3 linked regions of the Homo sapiens genome follow. The protein of the gene in region 1 purifies or fractionates together with the protein of each later gene. This does not show direct contact. Each region holds a gene or a part of one and is shown on either strand. Other genes may lie near its edges.

The links.
Region 2: the proteins of SEPTIN14 (region 1) and DCTN6 purify together in Homo sapiens (affinity purification with mass spectrometry; one large-scale study listed by BioGRID and IntAct). This does not show direct contact.
Region 3: the proteins of SEPTIN14 (region 1) and LIMK1 purify together in Homo sapiens (affinity purification with mass spectrometry; one large-scale study listed by BioGRID and IntAct). This does not show direct contact.

Annotation. Positions count from the first base shown.
Region 1 is NC_000007.14:55,860,574-55,864,324, forward strand, and holds the start of SEPTIN14 (septin-14), read right to left. Parts: upstream 2,180-3,751; 5' UTR 2,115-2,179; intron 1,439-2,114; 5' UTR 1,424-1,438; coding exon 1,370-1,423; intron 1-1,369. UniProt on the Homo sapiens protein: Filament-forming cytoskeletal GTPase. Involved in the migration of cortical neurons and the formation of neuron leading processes during embryonic development.
Region 2 is NC_000008.11:30,162,818-30,166,468, forward strand, and holds part of DCTN6 (dynactin subunit 6), read left to right. Parts: intron 1-1,293; coding exon 1,294-1,358; intron 1,359-3,651. UniProt on the Homo sapiens protein: Part of the dynactin complex that activates the molecular motor dynein for ultra-processive transport along microtubules.
Region 3 is NC_000007.14:74,114,743-74,118,393, reverse strand, and holds part of LIMK1 (LIM domain kinase 1), read right to left. Parts: intron 2,593-3,651; coding exon 2,436-2,592; intron 1-2,435. UniProt on the Homo sapiens protein: Serine/threonine-protein kinase that plays an essential role in the regulation of actin filament dynamics. Acts downstream of several Rho family GTPase signal transduction pathways.

The sequences.
Region 1 (3,751 bases):
GTAATAGATACATGAAGCACCCTGACTTGATTATTATGTATTCTATGCATATAATAAAATATCACATGTACCCCATCAATATGTATTAATATTACATATCATTTAAATTTTTTAAAAAACAGAGGGGTCCTTGGAGAGGTAATTAGGTCATATGGCTCCACCCACATGAATAGGACTAGTGCTTTTATAACAGAAGCTTGAGGGACACTGTTTGCTTCTCCTGCCATGTGAGGACACAGCTAGAAGCCATTTTTGAAGCAGAGAGTAAGCCCCCACCTGACACCAAACCTGCTGGTGCTTTGATCTTGGACTTCCCATCCTCTAGAACTGTGAACAATGCATTTCTATTGTATATAAATTACCAAGTCTGAGGTATTTTGTTATAGCTGCCCAAACAGACTAAGACACTTGCTAAAGATTTGTTGCTAGCATTTGCATATCAGCATTTGCATAATGTTTGACTAATTGGCTTTTGGGATCCCTTCTAATCCTAAAATTTTATGTTTTAGAGTCATGTGAACAAAGGAGTATTAACCATGATTTGTTAAACAAGAAAGCCCAAAGATAAAATGGAATGAGCATAGGCCAATGTTTCAGTCCCTGAGAAATTCCTCTGATGGTTATTCATGAAAAGCAATGACAGGCCAGGCGCAGTGGCTCATGCCTATAATCCCAATACTTTGGGAGACTGAGGCGGGTAGATCACCTGAGGTCAGGAGTTCGAGACCAGCCTGGCCCACATGGTGAAACCCTGTTTCTACTAAAAAAAAATCCAAAAGTTAGCCAGGCATGAAGGCAGGTGCCTGTAATCCCAGCTACTTGGGAGGCTGAGGCAGGAGAATCACTTGAACCCAGGAGGCAGAGGTTGCAGTGAGCTGAGATCACGCCACTGCACTCCAGCCTGAGCAACAGAGCCAGACTCAGTCTCAAAAAAAAAAAAAAAACTTGCTCTAACCTCACACTCAGTAAAGCAATCAGCAAGCAGCCATCCAACCATTTGCTAAAATAACTTCATTAAAAAATTATTTATTGTCAGTGCATACATTCTGCAAATATATCCATCAAAACAGCACTGTTCTTCTCATTTATTGGGCGATTCAGAAGTTTTACTTTGAATTTCTTTGGTGTTAAGTAGAAATAGTCTGTTGCACTGCTAACAAGGTCATCGGACTCAAAAAACATGTAACAATTATCTAAATCACCATTGATACTTAAAACTCCAATTAGTATAAAAGCTAATTCATGCCCAAACATAACAAACAAGACTTTATCTTCTATGCCTACATCAGTTTTCCAAGTCAATATTTTTAGGCTATATAATCTTATTGAAGTACAAAATGCAGAGTTATATTTGAAAGATATACTTAACTGTATCTCCATCAGCAGGTATTTGTGTGGGCATAGCCATTGTTCTTTCTGCCATGCTACACTAAAAGAGCTGGAAATTTAAAAAAATAAACATTTTTAAAAATTTCTTACAAAGGCTATATTCTTACTATATAATTTAGATAATTAGGGGGCATAATATGGGTATTTTTGCAAGCTTTAGTTTTTAGTTCACACTATTCATCTGTTTTAAACTGTGGCTGTCTTGCTAGATGGGCTTCTACATGATGAATAATATGTAATATTCAACTTATAATGTAGAGTAATACATTTAACCATAAGCACACAAAAAGCATCTTAAAGTTAAACTCCCTTTGGAAATCAAGAGGATAAGAGCATTCTTCTTCTTTAAATGACTCCATGGTCGTAAGAAAGGAAAGTAGAAAATTTTGCTTTAAAAAATGGTTAAAAAAAAAACAAAACAAGACACTCACAAGCACTTAACTTTCCAGAGTAGCATACCAGAGGAGGCTTAGGCATTTGAATTTACCCATTGAAAGAGAATTGTGAAAGCAGACCTTAAAAAACCTAAACAAGTTCTTTAGACACTGAACTAAAATAATGATAATTCTCATTTATGAAGCATCTATTATACAGCTAGCATTGTGCTAAGGGTTTATGTGCTTTATTTACCTCTGTTAGTCCTCATAGTAGATCTGAGATGTATGTATTTTCATTGCCATATGCCAGGTGAAAAAATTCAGACTCAGAAAGATTAAATAACTTACTTTCCCAGGGATTCAGCTGTGCAGCAGACACAGGTCCGAACTGATTCCAAGCTGGTGTCCTTTCTACTGTCCCCAGTTGTGGACCAAATAAATATTCACTGTGTTTGTAACAGTTGGGAACAGGGAGGAGAGGTACAAGAGAGCGTGCTGTGCTCATCTCCAAGCAGAACTGCCTGAGAAGGCCATGCTACCCTACTTTTGAACACAGCACAGAGATACTAAGAATATGAGACATGTTTCAAAAGGAAATATTATATATTTATAAAGCAAGTATTTGAAATATTTGAGAAGCAAACAGAATCAAAGAATGGTTCTGTGCCATAATCTCTTCACTTGCTCTATCCTGAGGATTATTGCACTTTAGTATACAAACGTATATCATTTTCCCTAAAATTAAGCAATGTTTTCTGATATAGATAGAGTTCTGTTTTGTGGTGTGGTTTAATCTAGACCAGTATGTATGAAGGTTTTTAAAATTTATTTATTTATCAGAAACTTAATGGTGGACATTGCAGTAATTTTGAGCCTTTTTTTTTTTTTGCTCTACCTCCTGGGTTCACACCATTCTCCTGCCTCAGCCTCCCTAGTAGCTGGGACTACAGGCACCCGCCACCACGCCCAGCTAATTTTTTGTATTTTTAGTAAAGATGAGGTTTCACTGTGTTAGCCAGGATAGTCTCAATCTCCTGACCTTGTGATCCACCTGCCTCAGCCTCCCAAAGTGCTGGGATTACAGGTGTGAGCCACCGCACCTGGCCAGTAATTTCTAGCCTTTAATGGAAATCAGCAACAAACATTGTTGATTTAAGTCAACAATGTTTGGCCAGGCACAGTGGCTAACACCTATAATCCCAGCACTTTGGGAGGCCGAGGCAGGCGGATTACTTGAGGCCAAGAGTTTCAGACCAGACTGGCCAACATGGCAAAATCCCATCTCTACTAAAAATACAAAACTTAGCTGGGCATAGCGGTGCAGGCCTGTAATCCCAGCAACTCAGGAGGCTGAGGCACGAGAATTGCTTGAACCCAGAAGGTGGAGGTTGCAGTGAGCCAAGATCCCGCCACTGCATTCCAGCCTGGGAGACAGAACAAGACTCTGACTCAAAAAATAAATAACAATGTTTATTTAAATCAACAATAAATATTGTTTTTGAAATACTGTAGTAATTTGAAGTAAACTACTACAAAATTCAAGAGTCTCTATCTCTGTATAATGACTGAATTTTTGGCAAATCTGCCAAAAATTATTTGAGAACTAGAGATGCAACTTATCTTGTATTTAAAAGCCTAATTAAGTGTCTTAAACAAAGAGGGGTTTATTTCTTTCACATAAGTCTAGAGCAGAAGTTTTTCAAAGTACGATCACTGGGCCCTGAGGATTCCTGAGATTCTTTTGCGGGGGGCCTATGGGTTCAATTTTTTTCTAATAATACTAGGGTTTTTTGTTTTTTGTTTTTGTTTTGAGATAGGTTCTCACTCTGTCACCAAGGCTGGAGCGCAATGGCGCAGTCGCAACTCACTGTAGCCTCAACCTCCCAAACTCAAGCGATCCTCCACACCTCAGCCTCCCAAATAGCTGGGATTACAGGCACCTGCCATCATGCCCTGCTAATTTTTGTACTTTTTTGTAGAGACAG
Region 2 (3,651 bases), on another chromosome or scaffold:
GAAACATTTGTAAATTTTAAATTTCTAAGTTAGTATTACCTTGCTGGTTGTTAAATAGTTTGAATGTATATTTTTTCTTCCTACCTTTACAAAAATAATGGCATATTACATACTGTCCATTTTCTCACTTCACTCTTTTTTACTTTTAACAATATAGCTTGGAGATCATTCCATATTTTTTTTTTTAAGAGATGAGGTCGCCGGGCACGGTGGCTTATGCCTGTAATCTCAGCACTTTGGGAGGCTGAGGTGGGTGGATCACCTGAGGTCGGGAGTTCGAGACCAGCCTCACCAACCTGAAAAAACCCCGTCTCTACTAAAAATACAAAATTAGCCAGGTGTGGTGGCACATGCCTGTAATCCCAGCTACTAGGGAGGCTGAGGCAGGAGAGTTGCTTGAACCTGGGAGGCAGAGGTTGCAGTGAGCCGAGATGGTGCCATTGCACTCCAGCCTGGGCAACAAGAGTGAAACTCTGTCTCAAAAAAAAAAGATGAGGTCTCACTATGTTGCCCAGGCTGGTCTTGAATTCCTGGGCTTAAGCAGTTCTCCTTCCTTGGCCTCCCAGAGTGCTGGGATTACAGGTGTGAGCCACTGTGCTCAGCCATTCCAAAATCTTGACAAGAGATTATTCATTCTTTTTGATGGCCATGTAATAGTCCATAATGTGCCATAATTTATTAACTAATCTTCCACTGATGAATATCTAGGTTGTTTTCAGCTTTTTGTTGTTTAGAAACGTGCTGCTATTAAAAGAAAAGATTCAAAACTCTTCTCAAGTGTTTTAGCACATGTGATTTGGGATGATGGACAATATACCAATTGAAAAATTTATAATGTATTAAAACCTTACCCTCTTACCATTGACTTTCCATTTTTCCATCTTTTTTTTTTTTTTTTTCCTGAGACAGAGTTTCACTCTTGTTGCCCATGCTTGAGTGCAATGGCGCGATCTCGGCTCACTGCAAACTCTGTCTCCCGAGTTCAAGTGATTCTCCTGCCTCAGCCTCCCAAGTAGCTGGGATTACAGGTGCTCGCCACCACGCCTGGCTAGTTTTGTATTTTTAGTAGAGATGGGGTTTCTTCATGTTGGTAAGGCTGGTGTCGAACTCCTGACCTCAGGTGATCCCCCCACCTCGGCCTCCCAAAGTGCTAGGATTACAGGCGTGAGCCACTGCGCCTGGCCTTTTTTTCCATCATTTTTTAAACCTTGTTTTCATTACAATGTCACGGTAGCTCCTCCAACAGTATGTTTAATCTTACCCCTGGTAAATGTTACCTTTTTCTTGCTACAGTGTGAAGATTGCTCCTGGAGCAGTTGTATGTGTAGAAAGTGAAATCAGAGGAGATGTAACTATCGGTAAGAAATAGTTTATTTACTGTTTTTCAAGAATTGATGTGATTTAATCTATTTTAGTGCTTTACAATTAGATACCGTCTTCCATGTTTATTTCACTGATGTCCTAGTTTTATTGACAAAATAATGCATTTTCTCCTATGTGTTTAAATTTCTGAAAGAATGTAGTGTGATGGAGGCTGTGTTTAAACTCCTATCTGAAATACTAATGAGGCTGTATAACAAAGTCATTCATGTATTTAAGAGAGATCTGTTGTGTACCTGCGATGTGCCAGGCACTGTGCTAGTGCTAGAGACACGTCAGTAAGCACAGCAGACAAAGGTGCTGCCTTTGTGGAGCTTCGTGGAGAGCGTGGGCCATGGAGTCAACAGACCTGGGCTACTCTGCTCCTTGCTCCTTTCTTGCTGGGTTACTTTGAACATATTACTTAACCTCTCTAACCTTGATGTTTTTCCCATCTATATAATTGTGTGTATCAGGATCAGGTTCGGCTGCATGTAGGGGTGGCTTACACCTGCAGAGGTTTATTCTCTCATATAAAAAGTTTCAAGGTGAGTAATGGAGGGCTGATCGGTTGATTGTCCAGCATGGAGCTCCGGCCCTGCAGGCCAGGAAGTGATGGCTAGAGCACCAAGCATCATCTTGGATGAGAAAGGGGAGGCGTGGAAGCAAAAGGGCATGTGTTCCAGCTGTGAGTCAGCTCCCTTTAAACAGCCTTCCTGAAAGTTCCACACGACCCTCCTCTGTGTGTCTCATGGCTAAGACAATCTCATGGACACATCAAGCTGCAAGGGAGTTTGGGAGTTGTAGTCTTAGCTGGTTGCATTGCAGCCGCTAATGAGATCAGGGTTCTATTACAAGGAAAAAGAGGAGAAGAGATATTGGATGGCAATGAGCAATTTTCATAACATGCAAAATAGTAGTATCTACCTCCTAGGTTTCTTGAAAGAAAACATGAAAATTGTGAGTAGTAAGCTGTCAATAAATATTTGCTGTTAACGCTGTCAGATCTTCTCAGTGTAGCCTTGCCAGAGTTCAAGTCCAACATTTTACTTACGTGAACTTGACTAAGTTCCTCAAACATTTTACTCTGTTCTTTTAACTGGGGTTTACCTGGATATGGTGCCCTTGTAGTTTTATTGGTGTGAGCTCATTCTTACCAGCAGCCGCATGTCACCTGTATGCTACCAGACTAAAGTGTTCAGTGAACTATTACACTTTCAGAGAGGAAATACACTTTATTTCCTTAAATGAACAGTTTCTTTAATGAAAAAAAAAAAAACCCTGTAACGTCATTTTTTTTTTCCAAAAAAAAATCTAAGCCTCCAAACAATTTAGGCATCTTGTCTTATAAAACCAGTGGAGATTGTGCCAGTATTATGGAACATTGTTAAGAATTTGCCAGGTTAGGACGGGCACGGTGGCTCACGCCTGTAATCCCAGCACTTTGTGAGGCTGAGGCGGGCGGATCACATGAGGTCAGGAGTTCAAGACCAGCCTCAACATGGAGAAACCCCGTCACTACTAAAAATACAAAATTAGCTGGGCATGGTGGTGCATGCCTGTAATCCCAGCTACTCGGGAGGCTGAGGCAGGACAATTGCTTGAACCTGGGAGGCAGAGGTTGCGGTGAGCCGAGATCGCGCCGTTGCACTCCAGCCTGGGCAACAAGAGCGAAACTCCTTCTCAGAAAAAAAAAAAAAGAAAAAAGAAAAAAGAATTTGCCAGGTTGGTTGATTTAATTATTTCTTTTCAGTGCCGTGGTAACTCTTTGTCTTTTGTATTACCTAAACCACTTGCGAAGTGTTTATGAAGCAAAATGAGGAAAGTTATGTTTTTTAATTTTTTACAATCTCTACTGCAGACTGGGACCACATATTTATCAAAATGCTCCTCTGTGTTCTTTTTACTCATCATTTTACTGCATTATAATTGTGGCTATCATCATGATATTCTAGGAATAATACCTTATAGTAGTTTGCAATGCATTCTTCAGTTAGAAGGAAAGTAAGACTGAAGTGATGTAATTAATTATGTAGATTTTCCCTGGCATTTCTACTTCTTCCCCATTTTACATTTTTTCTTTTCTTTTTTTTTTAAATCCCCCAATGTTACAACAACCCCGTTTTGGTTTTTTTTTTCTTTCTTTTTTTTTTTTTGAGACAGGGTCTCGCTATTTTGCCAAGCTAGTCTTAAACTCCTGGGCTCAAGCGATCCTCCTGCCTCAGCTTCCCAAAGTGTTGGGATTACAGGAGTGAGCCATCACACCTGGCCCAACAACAACCCCATTTTAAA
Region 3 (3,651 bases), about 18 Mb from region 1:
GTGTGTGTGTGTGTGTTTGACACAGAGTCCCACTCTGTCGTCAGGCTGGAGTACAGTGGTGCGATCTCGGCTCACTGCAAGCTCCGCCTCCTGGGTTCACATCATTCTCCTGCCTCAGCCTCCCGGGTAGCTGGGACTACAGACGCGTGCAACCACGCCCAGCTAATTTTTTTGTATTTTTAGTAGAGATGGGGTTTCATCATGTTGACCAGGATGGTCTCAATCTCTTGACCTCGTGATCCGCCCACCTCAGCCTCCCAAAGTGCTGGGATTACAGGAAGGTTTTTTTTTTTTTCTTTTTGAGACACAGTCTTCCTCTGTTGCCCAGGCTGGAGTGCAGTGGTGCAATCTTGGCCCAATGTAACCTCTGCTCCTGGGTTCAAGTGATTCTCCTGCCTCAGCCTCCCTAGTAGCTGTGCCACCACACCCGGGTAATTTTTGTATTTTCAGTAGAGACAGCGTTTCACCATGTTGGCCAGGCTGGTCTCGAACTCCTGGCCTCAAGCAATCCGCCTGCTTCAGCCTCCCAAAGTGCTGGAATTACAGGTGTGAGCCACTGTGCCTGGCCTATTTTTTGTTTTCTTGAGACAGGGTCTCACTCCGTTGCCCAGGCTAGAAGGCAGTGGTATGATCATAGCTCACTGCAGCCTTGATCTCCTTGGCTCAAGTAAATCTCCCGCTTTGGCTTCCTGAGTAGCTGGGACCACAGGCATTAGGCACCACGCCACATGCCAGGCTAATTTAACTAGGTTAACTATGATGAGGTGATGGCTGGGGTCTGCCTGCCCTGAACCTGTGTTCATGTGTCACCTGCTTGTAGAAGGACTTTATAACCTATAATCTGGGCATATATAGGACCATTGACAGCAAAGAAATGGACTGAGGGAAGCAGACCCTGTGGGAGGCAGAACTATGATCCCCAAAGATGACTGCGTCCTGATCCCTGGGACTTGTATACGTCCCACCTTCCATCGGACTCTGCAGATGGGATTAAGTTGAGGGTCTTGAGATGGAGGGCTGCTTTTGGATTATCCAGGTGGGCCCAATGTCACCGTAAGGGTCCCTATCAGAAGGATGGAGGGCCATGGTGGCTCATGCCTGGAATCCCAGCACTTTGAAAGGTCAAGGCAGGAGGATCGCCTGAAGCCAGGAGTTTGAGACCAGCCTGGGCAACATAGTGATACCCCCGTCTCTATTAAAAATTTAAAAAATTGGCCAGGCGCGGTGGCTCACGCCTGTAATCCCAGCACTTTGGGAGGCCGAGACGGGCGGATCACGAGGTCAGGAGATCGACACCATCTTGGCTAACACGGTGAAACCCCGTTTCTACTAAAAATACAAAAAATTAGCCAGGCGTGTTGGCGGGCGCCTGTAGTCCCAGCTACTCGGGAGGCTGAGGCAGGAGAATGGCGTGAACCCAGGAGGCGGAGCTTGCAGTGAGCTGAGATCACGCCACTGCACTCTAGCCTGGGAGACACAGCGAGACTCTGTCTCAAAAAAAAATAAAAAATAAAAAATAAAAAAATTAGCTGGGTGTGGTGTTGCATGCCTGTGGTCCCAGCTATTCAGGAGGCTGGGGTGGGATGACAGTTTGAGCCCAGAAGGTTGAGGCTGCAGTGAGCTATGGTGGCACCACTGCACTCCAGCCTGAGTAACAGAGCGAGACCCTCTTTAAAAAAGAAAAAAAAAAGGAGGAAGGTTAGAGCCAGGGAAAGAGATGCGGGGATGGATGCAGAGATCAGAGAAGAGAAGATGCTTTGCAGCCAGCCCTGAAGACAGAGGAGGGGGCAGCAACAGGAGGAATGAGGAAGCCTCCACGAGCCAGAAAAGGTCAGGAAACAGGTGCCCCGGAGCCTGCAGAAGGAGCTCACCCTACCGGCGTCTTGATTTCAGCCCGGTGAGGCTGACGCTGGACTTCAGACTCCAGAACTGTATGATCATTTATTTAAGCCACTAAGTGTCTTCTATTTATTTATTTTTTGAGATGGAGTTTCGCTCGTCACCCAGGCTGGAGTGCAATGGCGCGATCTCGGCTCACTGCAACCTCTGCCTCCCAGGTTCAAGCGATTCTCCTGCCTCAGCTTCCCTAGTAGCTGGGATTACAGTACTACAGTACTGGGATTACACCCACCACCATGCCCAGCTAATTTTTGTATTTTTAGTAAAGAATGGGGGTTTCACCATGTTGGCTAGGCTGGTCTCCAACTACTGACCTCAGGTGATCCACTCACCTCAGCCTCCCAAAGTGCTGGGATTACAGGCGTGAGCCACCGTGCCTGGCTGCCACTAAGTGTGTTATAGGAGCAACAGGACCCACAGGGTAACTGAAGAGCCAAGGAGGCTGGGAGGGGCCAGGGGCTTGGGAGGTTACAGCTCTCCTGGGCTCCCCCATGGCTTCCCGTGAGGGCCATGATGGGCAGGGCTGAACCACTCACCGTTGATCATCTCAGGTGCCATCCAGTAGGGGTTGCCCACCACGGTGTAGCGCTTCTTGCGGTCTGGCTTCTTGAGGCTCCGCAGGCCCTCAGGCTGAGTCTTCTCGTCCACCATGAGACGCGCCAGCCCGAAGTCAGCCACCACCACATTCTTGTTCTGGGAAGGTGAAGCCGGGTCATGCTGGGACCCGATCCTAGTACTGCCCGCTTGGCCTGCCCCTCCCCAGGACCCCAAGCCAACCTGTAGACAGCCCAGAGAACATACCTCTGATACGCTGTATTGGCACAGGGTGGGGACCCCTTCCTTCCCCAAACCCATCCGCTCTTTGCAAATGGAGCTGCGGGAAGCACCTGAAGATAGCAGTGTGGCTTCCTCCCTCCCACCACACGCTGCACCCTCTGCCCCCTCCCCACCTGCTCCCCAGACCGTCGTGGCGGACCCACTGCTCCCTCCTGCAAGCGCTCCCTCCCACCTGCGGGGGCACTGATGCTGCTTTGTTTCGGAGAGAAGACAGGAATTCTTTTGTTTTTTTTTTCAGACGGAGTCTTGCTCTGTCACCCAGGCTGGAGCGCAGTGGCGCGATCTCGGCTCACTGCAACCTCCGCCTCCCAGGTTCAAGCGATTCTCCTGCCTCACCCTCCCGAGTAGCTGGGATTACAGGCGCCTGCCACCATGCCTGGCTAATTTTTGTATTTTTAGTAAAGACGGGTTTCACCATACTTGGCTAGGCAGGTTTCGAACTCCTGATCTCAGGTGATCCACCCACTGTGGCCTACCAAAGTGCTGGGATTACAGGTGTGAGCCACTGTGCCCATCAAGACAGGAATTTTGATTATAGACCCAGGTCCTGTGCTTGGCATGCCACCAGATTTACTATTTATTTAGGTTGATTGACTGATTGAGATAGGGTCTTGCTATGTTGCCCAGACTGGTCTTCAACTTCTGGCCTCAAGTGGTCCACCTGCCTCAGCCTTTCAAAGTGCTGGGATTACAGGAGTAAGCCACCATACCTGGCCCAATTTTATCTTTTTTTTTTTTTTTTTGAGTTGGAGTCTTGCTCTATTGCCCAGGTTGAAGTGCAGTGGCACGATCTCAGCTCACTGCAAGCTCTGCCTCCCAGGTTCACGCCATTCTCCTGCCTCAGCCTCCCAAGTAGCTGGGACTACAGGCGCCTGCCACCATGCCCAGCTAATTTTTTGTATTTTTAGTAGAGAC